2 linked regions of the Homo sapiens genome follow. Each later gene encodes a partner of the first gene's protein in a complex. Each region holds a gene or a part of one and is shown on either strand. Other genes may lie near its edges. The genes, in order: TRIM28 and SMARCAD1.

Region 1 (8,163 bases):
CACCCTGCTTCCCTCCTCAGACAGGATTCTCCCCACACACACCCTGCTTCCCTCCTCAGACAGGATTCTCCCCACACAGAACCTGCTTCCCTCCTCAGACAGGATTCTCCCCACACACACCCTGCTTCCCTCCTCAGACAGGATTCTCCCCACACAGAACCTGCTTCCCTCCTCAGACAGGATTCTCCCCACACACACCCTGCTTCCCTCCTCAGACATGATTCTTCTCACACACACCCTGCTTCCCTCAGACAGGATTCTCCCCACACACACTCTGCTTCCCTCCTCAGACAGGATTCTCCCCACACAGAACCTGCTTCCCTCCTCAGACAGGATTCTCCCCACAAACACCCTGCTTCCCTCCTCAGACAGGATTCTCCCCACAGAGACCCTGCTTCCCTCCTCAGACAGGATGCTCCCCACACACACCCTGCTTCCCTCCTCAGACAGGATTCTTCTCACACACACCCTGCTTCCCTCCTCAGACAGGATTCTCCCCACACACACCCTGCTTCCCTCCTCAGACAGGATTCTCCCCACACACACCCCACTTCCCTCAGACAGGATTCTCCCCACACAGACCCTGCTTCCCTCCTCAGACAGGATTTTCCCCACACAGACCCTGCTTCCCTCCTCAGACAGGATTCTCCCCACACAGACCCTGCTTCCCTCCTCAGACAGGGCTCCCCTCCCCACACACCCTGCTTCCCTCCTCAGACAGAGTTCCCCTCCCCACACAGACCCTCTTTCCCTCAGACAGGATTTTCCCCACACAAACCCTACTTTCCTCCTCAGACAGGATTCTCCCCACACAGACTCTGCTTCCCTGAGACAGGATTCTCCCCACACACACCCTGCTTCCCTCCTCAGACAGGATTCTCCCCACACACACCCTGCTTCCCTCCTCAGACAGGATTCTCACCCCACACACCCTGCTTCCCTCCTCAGACAGGATTCTCCCCACACACACCCTGCTTCCTTCCTCAGACAGGATTCTCCCCCCACACACCCTGCTTCCCTCCTCAGACAGGATTCTCCCCCCACACACCCTGCTTCCCTCCTCAGACAGGATTCTTCTCACACACACCCTGCTTCCCTCCTCATACAGGATTCTCCCCACACACACCCTGCTTCCCTCCTCAGACAGGATTCTCCCCACACAGACCCTGCTTCCCTCCTCAGACAGGATTCTCCCCCCACACCCTGCTTCCCTCCTCAGACAGGATTCTCCCCCCACACACCCTGCTTCCCTCCTCAGACAGGATTCTCCCCACACACACCCTGCTTCCCTCCTCAGACAGGGCTCCCCCCACACACCCTGCTTCCCTCCTCAGACAGGATTCTCCCCACACAGACCCTACTTCCCTCCTCAGACAGGATGCTCCCCCCACACACCCTGCTTCCCTCCTCAGACAGGATTCTCCCCCCACACACCCTGCTTCCCACCTCAGACAGGATTCTCCCCCCACACACCCTGCTTCCCTCCTCATACAGGATTCTCCCCACACACACCCTGCTTCCCTCCTCAGACAGGATTCTCCCCCCACACATCCTGCTTCCCTCCTCAGACAGGATTTTCCCCACACAAACCCTACTTTCCTCCTCAGACAGGATTCTCTCCACACAGACCCTGCTTCCCTCAGACAGGATTCTCCCCACACAGACCCTGCTTCCCTCCTCAGGCAGGATTCTCCCCACACAGACCCTGCTTCCCTCCTCAGACAGGATTCTCCCCACACAGACCCTGCTTCCCTCCTCAGACAGGATTCTCCCCACACAGACCCTGCTTCCCTCCTCAGACAGGATTCTCACCCCACACACCCTGCTTCCCTCCTCAGACAGGATTCTCCCCACACACACCCTGCTTCCCTCCTCAGACAGGATTCTCCCCCCACACACCCTGCTTCCCTCCTCAGACAGGATGCTCCCCACACACACCCTGCTTCCTTCCTCAGACAGGATTCTCCCCCCACACACCCTGCTTCCCTCCTCAGACAGGATTCTCCCCCCACACACCCTGCTTCCCTCCTCAGACAGGAAGCTCCCCCCACACACCCTGCTTCCCTCCTCATACAGGATTCTCCCCACACACACCCTGCTTCCCTCCTCAGACAGGATTCTCCCCACACAGACCCTGCTTCCCTCCTCAGACAGGATTCTCCCCCCACACCCTGCTTCCCTCCTCAGACAGGATTCTCCCCCCACACACCCTGCTTCCCTCCTCAGACAGGATTCTCCCCACACACACCCTGCTTCCCTCCTCAGACAGGGCTCCCCCCACACACCCTGCTTCCCTCCTCAGACAGGATTCTCCCCCCACACACCCTGCTTCCCTCCTCAGACAGGATTCTCTCCACACACACCCTGCTTCCCTCCTCAGACAGGATTCTCCCCACACACACCCTGCTTCCCTCCTCAGACAGGATTCTCCCCACAGAGACCCTGCTTCCCTCCTCAGACAGGATTCTCCTCACACACACCCTGCTTCCCTCCTCAGACAGGATTCTCCCCACACACACCCTGCTTCCCTCCTCAGACAGGATTCTCCCCACACACACCCTGCTTCCCTCCTCAGACAGGATTCTCCCCACACACACCCCGCTTCCCTCAGACAGGATTCTCCCCACACAGACCCTGCTTCCCTCCTCAGACAGGATTTTCCCCACACACACCCTGCTTCCCTCCTCAGACAGGATTCTCCCCACACAGACCCTGCTTCCCTCCTCAGACAGGGCTCCCCTCCCCACACAGACCCTCTTTCCCTCAGACAGGATTTTCCCCACACAAACCCTACTTTCCTCCTCAGACAGGATTCTCCCCACACAGACCCTGCTTCCCTCAGACAGGATTCTCCCCACACAGACCCTGCTTCCCTCCTCAGGCAGGATTCTCCCCACACAGACCCTGCTTCCCTCCTCAGACAGGATTCTCCCCACACAGACCCTGCTTCCCTCCTCAGACAGGATTCTCCCCACACAGACCCTGCTTCCCTCCTCAGACAGGATTCTCACCCCACACACCCTGCTTCCCTCCTCAGACAGGATTCTCCCCACACACACCCTGCTTCCCTCCTCAGACAGGATTCTCCCCACACAGACCCTGCTTCCCTCCTCAGACAGGGATTCCCCTCCCCACACAGACCCTCTTTCCCTCAGACAGGATTTTCCCCCCACACACCCTGCTTCCCTCCTCAGACAGGATTCTCCCCACATACACCCTGCTTCCCTCCTCAGACAGGATTCTCCCCACACACACCCTGCTTCCCTCCTCAGACAGGATTCTCCCCACACAGACCCTGCTTCCCTCCTCAGACAGGGCTCCCCTCCCCACACAGACCCTCTTTCCCTCAGACAGGATTTTCCCCACACACACCCTACTTTCCTCCTCAGACAGGATTCTCCCCACACAGACCCTGCTTCCCTCAGACAGGATTCTCCCCACTCAGACCCTGCTTCCCTCCTCAGGCAGGATTCTCCCCACACAGAACCTGCTTCCCTCCTCAGACAGGATTCTCCCCACACACACCCTGCTTCCCTCCTCAGACAGGATTCTCCCCACACACACCCTGCTTCCCTCCTCAGACAGGATTCTCCCCACACAGACGCTGCTTCCCTCCTCAGACAGGATTCTCCCCACACAGACCCTGCTTCCCTCCTCAGACAGGGTTCCCCTCCGCACACACACCCTCTTTCCCTCAGACAGGATTTTCCCCACACAAACCCTACTTTCCACCTCAGACAGGATTCTCCCCACATGGACCTGCTTCCTTCCCTCCTTGGGATTCCCCACTGTTGAGGTTCAGTTTCCCCATCTGGAAAAGCATCAAAGTCAGGGTAGCTGCTGACGAAAACATGGGGAGGGGATGCCTTGGGGGGCTGGGTGGGATTTCACAGACTCATTGCTCTTTAGCCTCTTGTGATTTATATATATGTGTATATATATATATATATTTTTTTTCTTGATGGGGGGTTGGGGGGCCCGGCGTGGTGGCTCACACCTGTAATTCCAGCACTTTGGGAGGCCAAAGTGGGTCTATCATCTGACGTCGGGAGTTCGAGACCAGCCTGGCCAACGTGGTGAAACCCCGTCTCTATTAAAAATACAAAAATTAGCCAGGCGTGATGGCAGGCCCCTGTAATCCCAGCTACTCGGGAGGCTGAGGCAGAAGAATCGCTTGAACCCGGGAGGCGGAGGTTGCAGCGAGCCGAGATCGTGCCACTGCACTCCAGCCTGGGCAACAGAGCAAAACTCCGTCTCAAAACAAACACAAAAACCTTTCTCTCCTCTTTTGAGATGGAGTTTCACTCTTTTCTCCCAGGCTGTAGTGCAATGGCACGATCTCGGCTCACTGCAACCTCCGCCTCCCGGGTTCAAGCGATTCTCCTGCCTCAGCCTCCCGAGTAGCTGGGATTACAGGCGCCTGCCACCACGCCCGGCTACTTTTTGTACTTTTAGTAGAGACGGGGTTTCACCACGTTGGCCAGGCTGCTCTCGAACTCCTGACTTAAGATCCAACCGCCTCGACCTCCCAAAGTGCTGGAATTACAGGCGTGAGCCGCCGCGCCCGGCCACATTTTTCTCCATCTGTGGTCTAGGCTGGCGTGCAGTGGCACAATCCCGCCTCACTGCTGCCTCGGCCTCCTGGGCTAAACGGAGCTTCCCGACTCGCCTAAGAAAGTGGTGGGATTACAGGTATGAGCCACGGCGCCCGGCTGTGATCTACATTTGATTCAGTCAAGTTTCTGTGTTTCTCAAGTTTAACTATAGCGTGGTTAAAATCCAAAAGTCAGCACCCGAGCTCACACAGGAGCTTCCTCCCTCTTGGGATGGAGACTCTCCTCCCCTCTCCCTGGACACAGCCCTTCACTCGGTCTTGGCCCCGCCTACTTCTCCATCGGCCCTGCCCCCTATCCCGAACTCTTAGTGACGCAGAGGCTGGAGACGACTCTACGGCGGCGAAGAGACGCGGGTTGAGGAAGAGGGACGGATTGCCCATGCGCTTGGGCGCACAGCGGCCCGCTTCTGTGTGGTCTGGAGGTGGAGCTGAGAGGGGAATCACACTCTATAAAGGTTCGCATACCCCACTGGCGGATTCAATTGCGGCAGTGACGTCACAGAGGCCCCGCCCCGCCCCCACAAGAGCCCCACCGACGTGGGGTTGGCGGTGGTGGAAGGACTAGGAGTTGGCGCGTGCGTACTGGCGGCCTCTCCCGCACCGACCGGCCTGGGCCCCGCCCCCGGGCGTGAGGCGCCCAATGCGCGTGCGCGGCGGCGTCGGCGCCAGTTATTTCTGTCCCGCCCCCCGGCCTCGGCTCTTTCTGCGAGCGGGCGCGCGGGCGAGCGGTTGTGCTTGTGCTTGTGGCGCGTGGTGCGGGTTTCGGCGGCGGCTGAGGAAGAAGCGCGGGCGGCGCCTTCGGGAGGCGAGCAGGCAGCAGTTGGCCGTGCCGTAGCAGCGTCCCGCGCGCGGCGGGCAGCGGCCCAGGAGGCGCGTGGCGGCGCTCGGCCTCGCGGCGGCGGCGGCGGCAGCGGCCCAGCAGTTGGCGGCGAGCGCGTCTGCGCCTGCGCGGCGGGCCCCGCGCCCCTCCTCCCCCCCTGGGCGCCCCCGGCGGCGTGTGAATGGCGGCCTCCGCGGCGGCAGCCTCGGCAGCAGCGGCCTCGGCCGCCTCTGGCAGCCCGGGCCCGGGCGAGGGCTCCGCTGGCGGCGAAAAGCGCTCCACCGCCCCTTCGGCCGCAGCCTCGGCCTCTGCCTCAGCCGCGGCGTCGTCGCCCGCGGGGGGCGGCGCCGAGGCGCTGGAGCTGCTGGAGCACTGCGGCGTGTGCAGAGAGCGCCTGCGACCCGAGAGGGAGCCCCGCCTGCTGCCCTGTTTGCACTCGGCCTGTAGTGCCTGCTTAGGGCCCGCGGCCCCCGCCGCCGCCAACAGCTCGGGGGACGGCGGGGCGGCGGGCGACGGCACCGGTAAGTACGAAGTGATCGGTGCCACCCCTCCCCCTACTCTCTGCCTTTGATTCCGACTGGGTGCAGAGATGAGGATGCCACCTGGGCGAGAGGATGGGGGCCCGGACAGGGCACGGGAAATACTTTCTGGGTCCTGCATACGAACGTGGGTTTGTGCTGGCCGCTGAGATGGGACATCTGACTAAAGTTGGAGAAAAGAAGGCTCGGGGAGGGGAGGGGCTGGTTCGCTGCGGGATAATGGTCGGGGGCCCACCCAGCAGGGGAATGGTGGGGGCCATAACCTGGGTGGGAACTTGTAACAGTCTCCCACATCCCTGCTTCTCGAAGTGGTGGACTGTCCCGTGTGCAAGCAACAGTGCTTCTCCAAAGACATCGTGGAGAATTATTTCATGCGTGATAGTGGCAGCAAGGCTGCCACCGACGCCCAGGATGCGAACCAGGTGCGTCCTATCTCAGCAACCACAAGGAGGTTTCTGGGGAGGGGGCATCTGCGCAGGAGGAGCTTGGCACCAGCTCCAGGCTGTTACTCCACTTTCCCAAGGCTCTGGGTGGGCTGCCTAGGTTGGGTCAAGGGACCAATCTTAAATCTCCGGTTGTATTTTCTGGGATGTAAACGTGGATCTATCAAGTTGTCTTGCCTTCTCTGACCCTGCCTTTGTCTGGCAGTGCTGCACTAGCTGTGAGGATAATGCCCCAGCCACCAGCTACTGTGTGGAGTGCTCGGAGCCTCTGTGTGAGACCTGTGTAGAGGCGCACCAGCGGGTGAAGTACACCAAGGACCATACTGTGCGCTCTACTGGTACATGAGGCTGAGGGGGGCTGTTGGAGTTGTTCTCCCATGTGTGCCCTCAGTTGCTTTTATGATGTTGGTTGCATCTGGTGGATGGGTCCTAGAGTTCTCTAGGGGGTGCCGCCCGAAGGGCCCGAGGGCAGAACTCCAGAAGCAGAAAAACTGGGGTTGTGGTGTGTAGTCTCTAGGGCCTAGGTGGGAGAGGGTGGGAAGGGGAAATAAGGGAGACCTTAATGTGCTGCAGGGAGGTACAAAGGGTTTGAGAAGGCTTATCAGGGAGTTGTCAGACCTGGTGGTGAAGGGCTCAGCATATGCAAACAGGGAAAGGCATGGTGTGAAGGGCTTTCTGGGTTTGTGGTTCCCTGGCACACATCTGGTATAAGATGCTGCTAGGGAAAGTAGACTGTGGGTCCATGGATTATAAGTGATGATGATTTTTGGAAGTGTTTTAGCTTTTGAGTTGGCAGAGACTTACCCAAAGTTTGGTTTGGCATTTCCAGCTTTTCACAGACACAGCTAGCTTTGGTTTGGAAGGAGCTTGAGAGTCTTTTGAGTCTAGCCAAGTTTTGGGGCCAGAATCCTCCCATGAGTGGCCTTTTGGTAGCCATACTGTGATTCTTCCCATCCCAGAGGACAGCATTGGTGGAAGATAGCGGGAAGGTGGTGGCTGTGGGGCCTGAGCAGCCAGGAGGGATACGCAGGGGCTGCAGGGTGTCCTACATTCCAGACGTCCCAGGCAAAGGTCAGGGTGCAGGAATGAGTGGCATTGGGGAAGTCAGTTTCCCCAATGAGCCCTGATGCTACATATTTTGGATTTGGTTGGTATGTGGGACCAGTGTGTTTGATCAGTTTTCTAATGGGGAGACAGGCTTTGGAGGTTATTAATGGGTTGGTCTTTGGGTGGGATTATGCTGAGCACCAAGATTCTGCTCTAGAGGGGGTGTGACCACCATTCTGAGGGTCCTGGTTTGACATTTCATCTCTCCCAGTATGAGAACCTCTACAAGGTTTCCTCTGGGCCCTTGGATTGTAAGAGACCCTGGTGTTCTCTTGTCAGGGAAGAGGGAGGAAGTTAACCATGAAAGGAGAAGAAAAGGAATCCAGGGTGGTGTGTAGGCAGAATTCTGAGTATGTCCACTTGGAGAAGTGTTCAGTAAAGGGAACAGTGTGGGGAAGGGTCAGCGGGGGTGGGGGGTGGGGTGGGGTGGTCCTCTTTTTCTAGACGCTGTTATCCTTACCCTTACATTGTTGTTATCTCTAGAAGCTAGAAGAAAGGGATGTGTTTCTCAGCTATGTTGGGGCAGAGGATTCTGGGAGCAAGGAGTTGGGCTTGCAGGCCTGTGTTCTTCCCTGGCCACACCCTCTACATCTTCCCAATAAATGGCCCAGTGTCACAGAACAGGCCGGAAATGAGGCC
Region 2 (8,185 bases), on another chromosome or scaffold:
AGTGCAGTGGTGTGATCTAGGCTCACTGCAACCTCTGCCTCCCAGGTTCAAGCAATTCTTGTGCCTCAGCCTCCTGAGCAGCAGGGATTACAGGCACGCTCCACCATGCCTGGCTAATTTTTGTATTTTTAGTAGAGACGGGGTTTCACTATGTTGGCCAGGCTGGTCTTGTGATCTCAGGTGATTTGCCCACCTTTGCATCCCAAAGTGCTGGGATTACAGGCTTCAGCCACCGCGCATAAAAATCTTACCATTCATCTTATCTCATTCCCATCAGGGATCTAAACCCTGCCCTTCATTACTTTGAAACCTCTCATATCTCTTTCTTCTCCATTTCTACCGCTATCATTAAGCTCAATTACAGGAGTTGCCTAAATGTTTTCTTTCCCTTCAATCCCTACCCTCAATCAGTGTGTACTAGTCACTACTGCTAAACTGACTTTTAAAACTTTCTTTCACCATTTTCCATTCACTCTGTAAGTTCTTCAATGGATATCTAATACTTACAATGTAAAATCTAAACTTCTCAGTTTTCAAGATTCTCCAAAATTCACAGTATCATTTAAAACAATCTTTTATTAAAGCAAAGTGCTCCATTCCTACAAGGATTAATTCTCAACATTCCTAGAACAAACTTAGTTTTCTTATTTCCCGAAGCCATCAAGGCTGATCATGTAATTCCTAAAGCAATCTCAGTTTTTAAGCAGAATTTATGTATGGAAAAAAGTCCCAATAAAGAGAAAATGAGTGTTATCATTAGAAAGAAATAAAAACAGAAAAATATCTTCTGATCACTAAAGGAAATTAAAGATTTCACATGACCAATACTGATAAATAACTAAAACATTCCACTGAAATCCAGTTTACAAACTGCTTTCACTTTCAGAGATGAAAAAAGTGTGGATCACAGATTTCAAATGACTTGTCTAATGTCCCACATTTAACAAAAATGAAGAAGCAGAAGCTTCTATGGACTCGAAATCCCATGTCTACACCTTGGCTTTCCTGAACTATCTAACTACAGAGGAAACAGACAAATATATTCATTGGAAAAGCATTAAAATACCTGGATGTCAAATATCTATTCAAAGAGTGAACACAGGGATTAAAATCCTGGTGCTTAAAATCCTTCAGTTGTTCCCTATAGCATTTAAATTCAAAACTACTTAGACAAAGCCTTTGTAAATCTGACTCCTAATCCAATCTACCAAATCATTCTGCCAATTTCCAATTACACCAAAGTATTTAAAAATGTTATTCTAATGATAACTTGCAGAGGATCTGCCATCATTATTACATTTAAGTAGAAGGGTGGCAAACAAAAAGATACCAAGGATAAACATGTGTGTTACCAATCTTTCAGGCTACATTAAGTTAAAAGCTGTTTACGAAACAGAGTTTTGCATAAAAAAAGATATTACTGAAATAAATATTAAAATATAACTTCCAACATTCCTTTCACCTTTCCTAAGAAACTAACTAATTAGTTTATGCTCAGGAATCATACTGCCAGGACTTGAGTTCAGGCTCTACCAAGTTCCTAATAACCTCTCTGAATCTCATTTCACATTAACCTCTATGTCAGTAATATCTACCTTGTAGGATTATTGTGCAAATTAAATGACAGAAGGTGAAGCACTTATCACTATTCCTATAATACAACAAGAGCTCAAATATATTCCTCTAATAGTTAACTGTTCAATGAACATAGATTCGAGTGGAAATCTTAATTTTTGGCTTATCCTCAAATACTTTTGTCTCTGACAATCTGCTGATGAGGTTAAAAATGTTCATTCACCATGAAGAATACCAATTACTCATTTGCATTCTGAGGACATCCAGGAAGTCAGGTGGATGCAAGAACTTGATGTGATCTGATCTTCCCTTGTGTACAGAGGTTGTCTTTAGGCACCTTGCTCAATGTCTAGCTCACAGTAGATGATCAATATTTTGAGGGAATACTGGAATGAATGAAAATGTCTGCCCAAATAGCCTCAAAGTTTATCATAGGACTGAATCACTGACATCGCTCTTCCAATAGCAACCGTTCTGACCTATGGATGCCCTAAATTCTAATTTCAACTTCCACCATGGGGCCATATTCGAAGAACTCATATAAAAGTGAGGCGACAATGGATGGATGCTCAGTTGAGGGTACATGGTGCTTATGGCAGTCCCAAAGCTGTATTTAAAAGGGCACACCGCAGGACAATGCATCAATATATATGACATCAAGAATAAAAATGAGAATCCCTTCTGCCTTTCATCTTTTAAAAACTGTCCTTGATGTTACATCAATTTTAACATTGTAACTCACCTGTTTTTTCAGTTATATCTGAATCAGGAGTGTTTGCCCTGCTAACTTCCCCTTCAGCATTCTCCTCTTCAGCACTAAGAGAAATTGGTGAAGAAGGGCCAGGCTGGGAAGGTTGAGGGGTTGCTTCGGGCGCTTCCTCAATCTTATTCCTTTTCTCAAAGCGAAAACGGTCCAGGTTGAAAAGATTCATATTGGTAGAAAGCACCACCTTGCAGGGATGGGGGCTTTAAATGAACTATCTGCAGGGGAAAAATAAAGAGAGGAAAAAAGGCCATGAAAACAATATACGATACAATGCCACAGCAGTTTATTCCCAAGGCAATAAAGGGCCCGCAAACATGCCAGTGGCTCAGGACTGTTATGGCTGCGCTTCATTGTTAGGCCGCAACAATTAGAAGGTGGACGGGGGTATCTTTTAAAATTTTCCATTGCTTTTCACTCCCCTTCGTCCGCCTCCCCCGCCCGCCCCTCCTTACTGAAACCACGAGCTGACCCTCATGCAACCTCCTCTTACCCAAGCACGCGCAGGCACGTTCCCCAGTATAACCCCCTAGCGGGCCTCGCGCCCGCCCACAAAGAGAAGCTCCCTGTGCTACCGTGCCCCCTGCCTCGAGAAAGGACCTGCCAGGGCCCGCGCCTCGACACTGCGGGGACACAAAGGGGCCAAAGAAGGGGAGCGGCGGAGGCCGTGCTGGCGGGCATCCGCCCGGAAGTTGACGCGGCGCGATCCCAGCTGAGAGGAAGCTGATAGGATTAAGAACACACAGGAAGGTTCAGAGGTGGAGTGCATGCTAAGGCATCTTTTTAACGTTCAATCGCTCGCTTGTTCTTTCTTCCCTCAGTACTTACGATCTTGTAGCCTCAGTGCTATGTAACAAAGGTTGAAAATAAAAAAAAAATTTCCTAGCGTGGGGCGACGGTAGCCGTGCCGGGACCTTCCAAAACACCACGGAGAAACCTTAAGAGCGCGTAATGATGACGCAACACGCAGCCTAGGCTTTTTCTTCCCAAACAACGCGCGAGCCGACAATGTCGAGGCGCGCGCTGTTGTCATGGTAATTCGTACCCGTCTCCGCCGGCTTGTAAGGGCCAGATTGTTCTGTACCTTTGTCCTGTTAAATTATCTAGAGAGTTATTAAATAGAACAATAGTAAATAGCATAATGACAAAAAATAACAATATATAATACAATTAGTATATATTGTATGTATTATAATCTGTAGTGTTTCACCTATAATATAATGTAGATAGCATAATAGTAATAATACTGTGCTAAGCTTTTTCAGTGTATAATCCCAATCCTTACAAGAAGCCTATGTTTACAAAGCAAAGAAACTGAGACCTGCAAATGTATAGGTAATTAGTGACGGATAAGAACCCCGGGATGCTGAGCTTCAAAGCATTTAAAGTAATTCCTCACTTTCGGCTTGATTGTTCTTAGAATGGAATTTGATTAATTAATTAATTTTTTAAAAATATTTTAATTTTTAATGTTTGCGGGTACATAGTAGGTGTACATATTTATAGGGTACATGAGATATTTTGATACAGGCATGCAATGTGTAATAATCATATCAGGGTAAGTGGGGTATCCATAACAAGCATTTATCCTTTGTGTTTCAAACAATCCAGTTATTTTAGTCATTTAAAAATGTACAATAAGCTGGGAGTGGTGGCTCACGCCTGTAATCCCAGCACTTTGGGGGGCTGAGGCAGGTGAATCACAAGGTCAGGAGTTTGAGACCAGCCTAGCCAACATGGTGAAACTCCGTCTCTGCTAAATATACAAAAAATTAGCCGGGCGTAGTGGCGGGCGCCTGTAATCTCAGCTAATCGGGAGGCTGAGGCAGGAGAATAGCTTGAACCTGGGATGCGGAGGTTGCAGTTAGCCGAGATCACTCCACTGCACTCCACCCTGGGCAACAAAGCAAGACTCTTGTCTCAAAAAAAAAAGTACAATAAATTGTTGTTGACTGTAGTCATGCTATTGTGCTATCAAATACTAGATCTTATTCATTCAAACTGTATTTTCGTACCCATTAACCATGCTCACCGACCACCGGGGTCCTCCCCCGCCCCACACTACCCTTCCCAGCCTCTGGTAGCCATCGTTCTACCGTTTCTCATACGTTCAATTGTTTTAATTTTTTAGCTCCCACAAATATAATAAATGAGAACATACCAAGTTTTTTTTCTGTGCCTGCCTTATTTCCTTTAATATAATGACCTCCAGTTCCATCCATGTTGCAAATGACAGGATCTCATTTTTTTTAATGGCGAAATAATACTCCACTGTGTATATGCACCACATTTTTCTTATTCATTCACCTGTTAATGGACACTTAAGTTGCTTCCAAATCTTGGCTGTTGTGAATAGTGCTGCAACAAACATGAGAATGCAGATATCATTTCGATACACTGATTTCCTTTCTTTTGCATATAATTCACCTATCTTGATGGAAATGTTAGCTTAAGAATATATACTCCTGGCCGGGCGCAGTGGCTCACGCCTGTAATCCCAGCACTTTGGGAGGTGGAGGCGGGCGGATCATGAGGTCAGGAGATCGAGACCATCCTGGCCAACACGGTGAAACCCCGTCTCAACTAAAAATACAAAAAATTAGCCGGGCGTGGTGGCGGGCGCCTGTAGTCCTACCTACTCGGGAGGCTGAGGCAGGAGAATGGCATGAACCAGGGAGGCGGAGCTTGCAGTGAGCCGAGATCACGCCATTGCACTCCAGCCTGGGCAACTCCATCTCAAAAAAACAAAGAATATATACTCCTGGGCTAGGAGCAGTGGCTCACGTCTGTTATCCCAGCACTTTGGGAGGCCAAGGCAGAGCTGGGGCAACATAGTGAGACCCCATCTCTAAAAAAAATACAAAGTTATCCAGGCATGATGGCACACGTCTGTAGTCCCAGCTACTTTGGGGGCTGAGGCAGGAGGATCACTTGAGCCTGGGAGGTCGAGGCTGCAGTGAGCCATGTTTGCACCACTGCACTCTGGCCTGGGTGACAGAGCAAGACCCTGTCTCAAAAAAACAAAAAACTAAGATATACTCCCTTTGTTCCAACATTAGACAAGCAATTTTCTGAGTTATAATTTGAGCTTCTGGTTGGCATTTCCCATAAAGAGGAATTGCTACAAATGATCATTCTGCCAGATATATTAGCCATTGTAAACTTAAATTGCCAGTTTGTTTTATAAGTCAGTGTTGTGAATTGTATATTTACAACACATACCCACAGTTTTATCAAATGTGGGCACATTTATAAAATCAGGTGTCTGGGCCAATAAAACTCAAGATCAAAGCCTGAACAATTAGGACTTCCTTTATACCTATCTTTAATATCCCATGAAATGCATTAGTTTTATGCATGCATATTAAATTATGTGATCAAAGAATATATTTACTTATGGCCAGGCACAGCGGCTCATGCCTGTAATTCTAGCACTTTGGGAGACTGAGGTGGGAGGATCACTTGTGGCCAAGAGTTCAAGACCAGCCTGGGCAACAAAGGGAGACTTCATCTCTCTTTTTTTTTTTTTTGAGACAGGGTCTCACTCTGTCACCCAGGCTGGAGTTCAGTGGTTCAATTGTGGCTCACTGTAGCCTTGACTTCCCAGGCTCAAGCGATCCTCCCATCTCAGCCTCCCAAGTAGCTGGAACTACAGGTACTTGTCTCCATGCCTGACTAATTTTTGCATTTTTTGTAGAGATGGGGTTTTGCCATGTTGGCCTGGTGGTGGGGGTGGGGGGAGGCGGGTTGGGGGCATCAAGGCTGCAGTGAGCCATGATTGAAAGAAAAAGAAAAGAAAAAAATATATATTTACTTGTAAGTAGTAAATTATTTTTGGTGATGAAGACAATTTGATTTCTATTTAGAGAGATCTGACATTGAAAATGGACTCCTCTAGCTGAATGACCTTTCTAAGTCTTACTTTCATCATTCTTTAAATGTGATTAACAATAATATTGACGCTTAGAGTGCTTTTCTGCAACAGTACCACCTCTTGACGTTATAGCTGGGACAAGATTGAAAATGAACCACATAAATTAAAAATGTCTAAATATTTAAACATTATAAATATAGCCAACAAAGTGTAAAAGTTAAATATGTTCTTCCTATTTTGAAAATACCAGGGAAGCCAGGTTGAATTTAGAATTTCTATTGTGTCAGAATGTGGGTTAATGAAAGAGAATTGATTGGCTCATATATCCTGCCTTGCTAGTGTCACCTTTTCATACACAATTTGATACTAATGGTATCAATAACGATATCATAATGGGCCATGTGCTTATGCACATAGATGCCCAGCATATGGACACCCAACTCTGGCCCCCAACTAGGGTTACCATATTTGTTTTTTTTAAAAAAGGGATGTACAGTTAAATTTGAATTTTAAATAAACAATGAATACATTCTTAGTATAAATTTGTCTGATGAAATACTTGGAACTGATACTAAGACATTATTTGTTGTTTATCTGAAACTCAAATTTAACAAGTTGTCTTGTATTTTATTTGGCAAACTTACTGCTCTCCCACTCCTTTGTCACCTCTTGGACCTTGGGGCCTTTTGGCTACATTTTTGGCCTAGGGTTATAGATACTGAAAGCACTGTTTGCCCTCAGTAGGAAGGACCTCGGGAAAAGTCACTGTTAGACTTCTTGGGGCTGTGTGAGCAAAGAATTTTAGGGACCAGGTACTCAAATTATTGTCTAAAAGTGAAGGCACAAGTTCTGAATGAACACGTCTTCTTGGCCCCAAAGATTCCTTTAGGGCAGGGCATAGCTGGAAAGAACTAGATTTTGCCCTTTAAAGCACTAGACCAGGATAGGGACTCCTTTTGACCAGTTCTAAGGGTAGGATTTTTCTGCAACCTTCATTGACCTGGGAGAATTATAATGATTCATGATTGGGGTTCTCTTTGAAAGTGAAGTAGAAGTTTAAGGGTATGTATTAGTTTGCTAGGGCTGGTATATTAACAGCCTGGATGACTGAAACAACAGAAATTTATTTTCTCTTGGTCCCTGAGGCTAGATTTCCACTCTCAAGGTTTTGGTAGAGTTAGTATATTCTGAAAGCCATGAAGGAAAGATCTGTTGCAGACAATAGATGAAATCAATGAATTAGCCAGGCGTGGTGGCACACGCCTGTAGCCCTGGCTACTCAGGAGGCTGAGGCAGGAGAATTGCCTGAACCCAGGAGGCAAAGGTTGCAGTGAGCCATATCATGCCACTGCTTTAAAGGGTGACAGAGCAAGACTCCATCTCAAAAAAAAAAAAAAAAAAAACAATGAAATATGAAGAAATGATAAATATAAGATTCAGAGAAGTGAGAATGAAGCTTTGAATAATAGGTGTAAACAATCATACATACTCACACACACATACCAAAAAAAAAAGAAATAATGAAAAACATAATAGAAAACGTTCATGGGCTTTCATTTAGTCTGCATGTGAAAGAGCTTAGTGAATTCAGGCAGAATCAATTGAAAGAGACTATACAGTAAAAATATCCTGCAGAATTTGTTTTAATTTCAAGAATTTAAAAAATGTCTTGCAAGCATTTTTCAGAAAAAATCTACAGCCTACAAAGGGAAAGAAATCAAGCAAAAGCTTTTTTGTTAAACGTCAGAAAGTAATGATGCAATATTTATAATGATTTGGGGAAAACGATTGTGACTCAATAATTTTCTAGATCACAAATATTCATTTGTGGAAGAAAAAAATTCAAACTTCTAGTTTCCTGAAAATATATCTTCCTTAAAATATTCCTAAAGACATAAATCCAGCTGACAATGTCAAAATGAGAATTTCAATATGGTGAATTCATGGTGTAAAAGCATTCTGTTGAGACTAAA

Evidence for each region.
Region 2: the proteins of TRIM28 (region 1) and SMARCAD1 are in contact, whole or in part, in a crystal structure (PDB 6H3A), measured with the Homo sapiens proteins. Residues at the interface, in NP_005753.1 of Homo sapiens: Arg330, Trp333, Thr334, Lys337, Ile338, His341, Leu376, Lys377, Ile379, Val380, Asp381, Val383; in NP_001362784.1 of Homo sapiens: Asp156, Leu157, Ala160, Lys161, Gln163, Thr164, Glu167, Leu168, Phe169, Asp188, Gly189, Ala190, Ala192, Leu196, Ala201, Gly202, Gly203.

Annotation. Positions count from the first base shown.
Region 1 is NC_000019.10:58,539,142-58,547,304, forward strand, and holds the start of TRIM28 (transcription intermediary factor 1-beta), read left to right. Parts: upstream 1-4,922; 5' UTR 4,923-5,616; coding exon 5,617-5,956; intron 5,957-6,283; coding exon 6,284-6,396; intron 6,397-6,622; coding exon 6,623-6,755; intron 6,756-8,163. UniProt on the Homo sapiens protein: Nuclear corepressor for KRAB domain-containing zinc finger proteins (KRAB-ZFPs).
Region 2 is NC_000004.12:94,202,717-94,210,901, reverse strand, and holds the start of SMARCAD1 (SWI/SNF-related matrix-associated actin-dependent regulator of chromatin subfamily A containing DEAD/H box 1), read right to left. Parts: upstream 3,038-8,185; 5' UTR 2,832-3,037; intron 2,819-2,831; exon of another isoform or gene 2,660-2,818; intron 2,557-2,659; 5' UTR 2,508-2,556; coding exon 2,318-2,507; intron 1-2,317. UniProt on the Homo sapiens protein: DNA helicase that possesses intrinsic ATP-dependent nucleosome-remodeling activity and is both required for DNA repair and heterochromatin organization.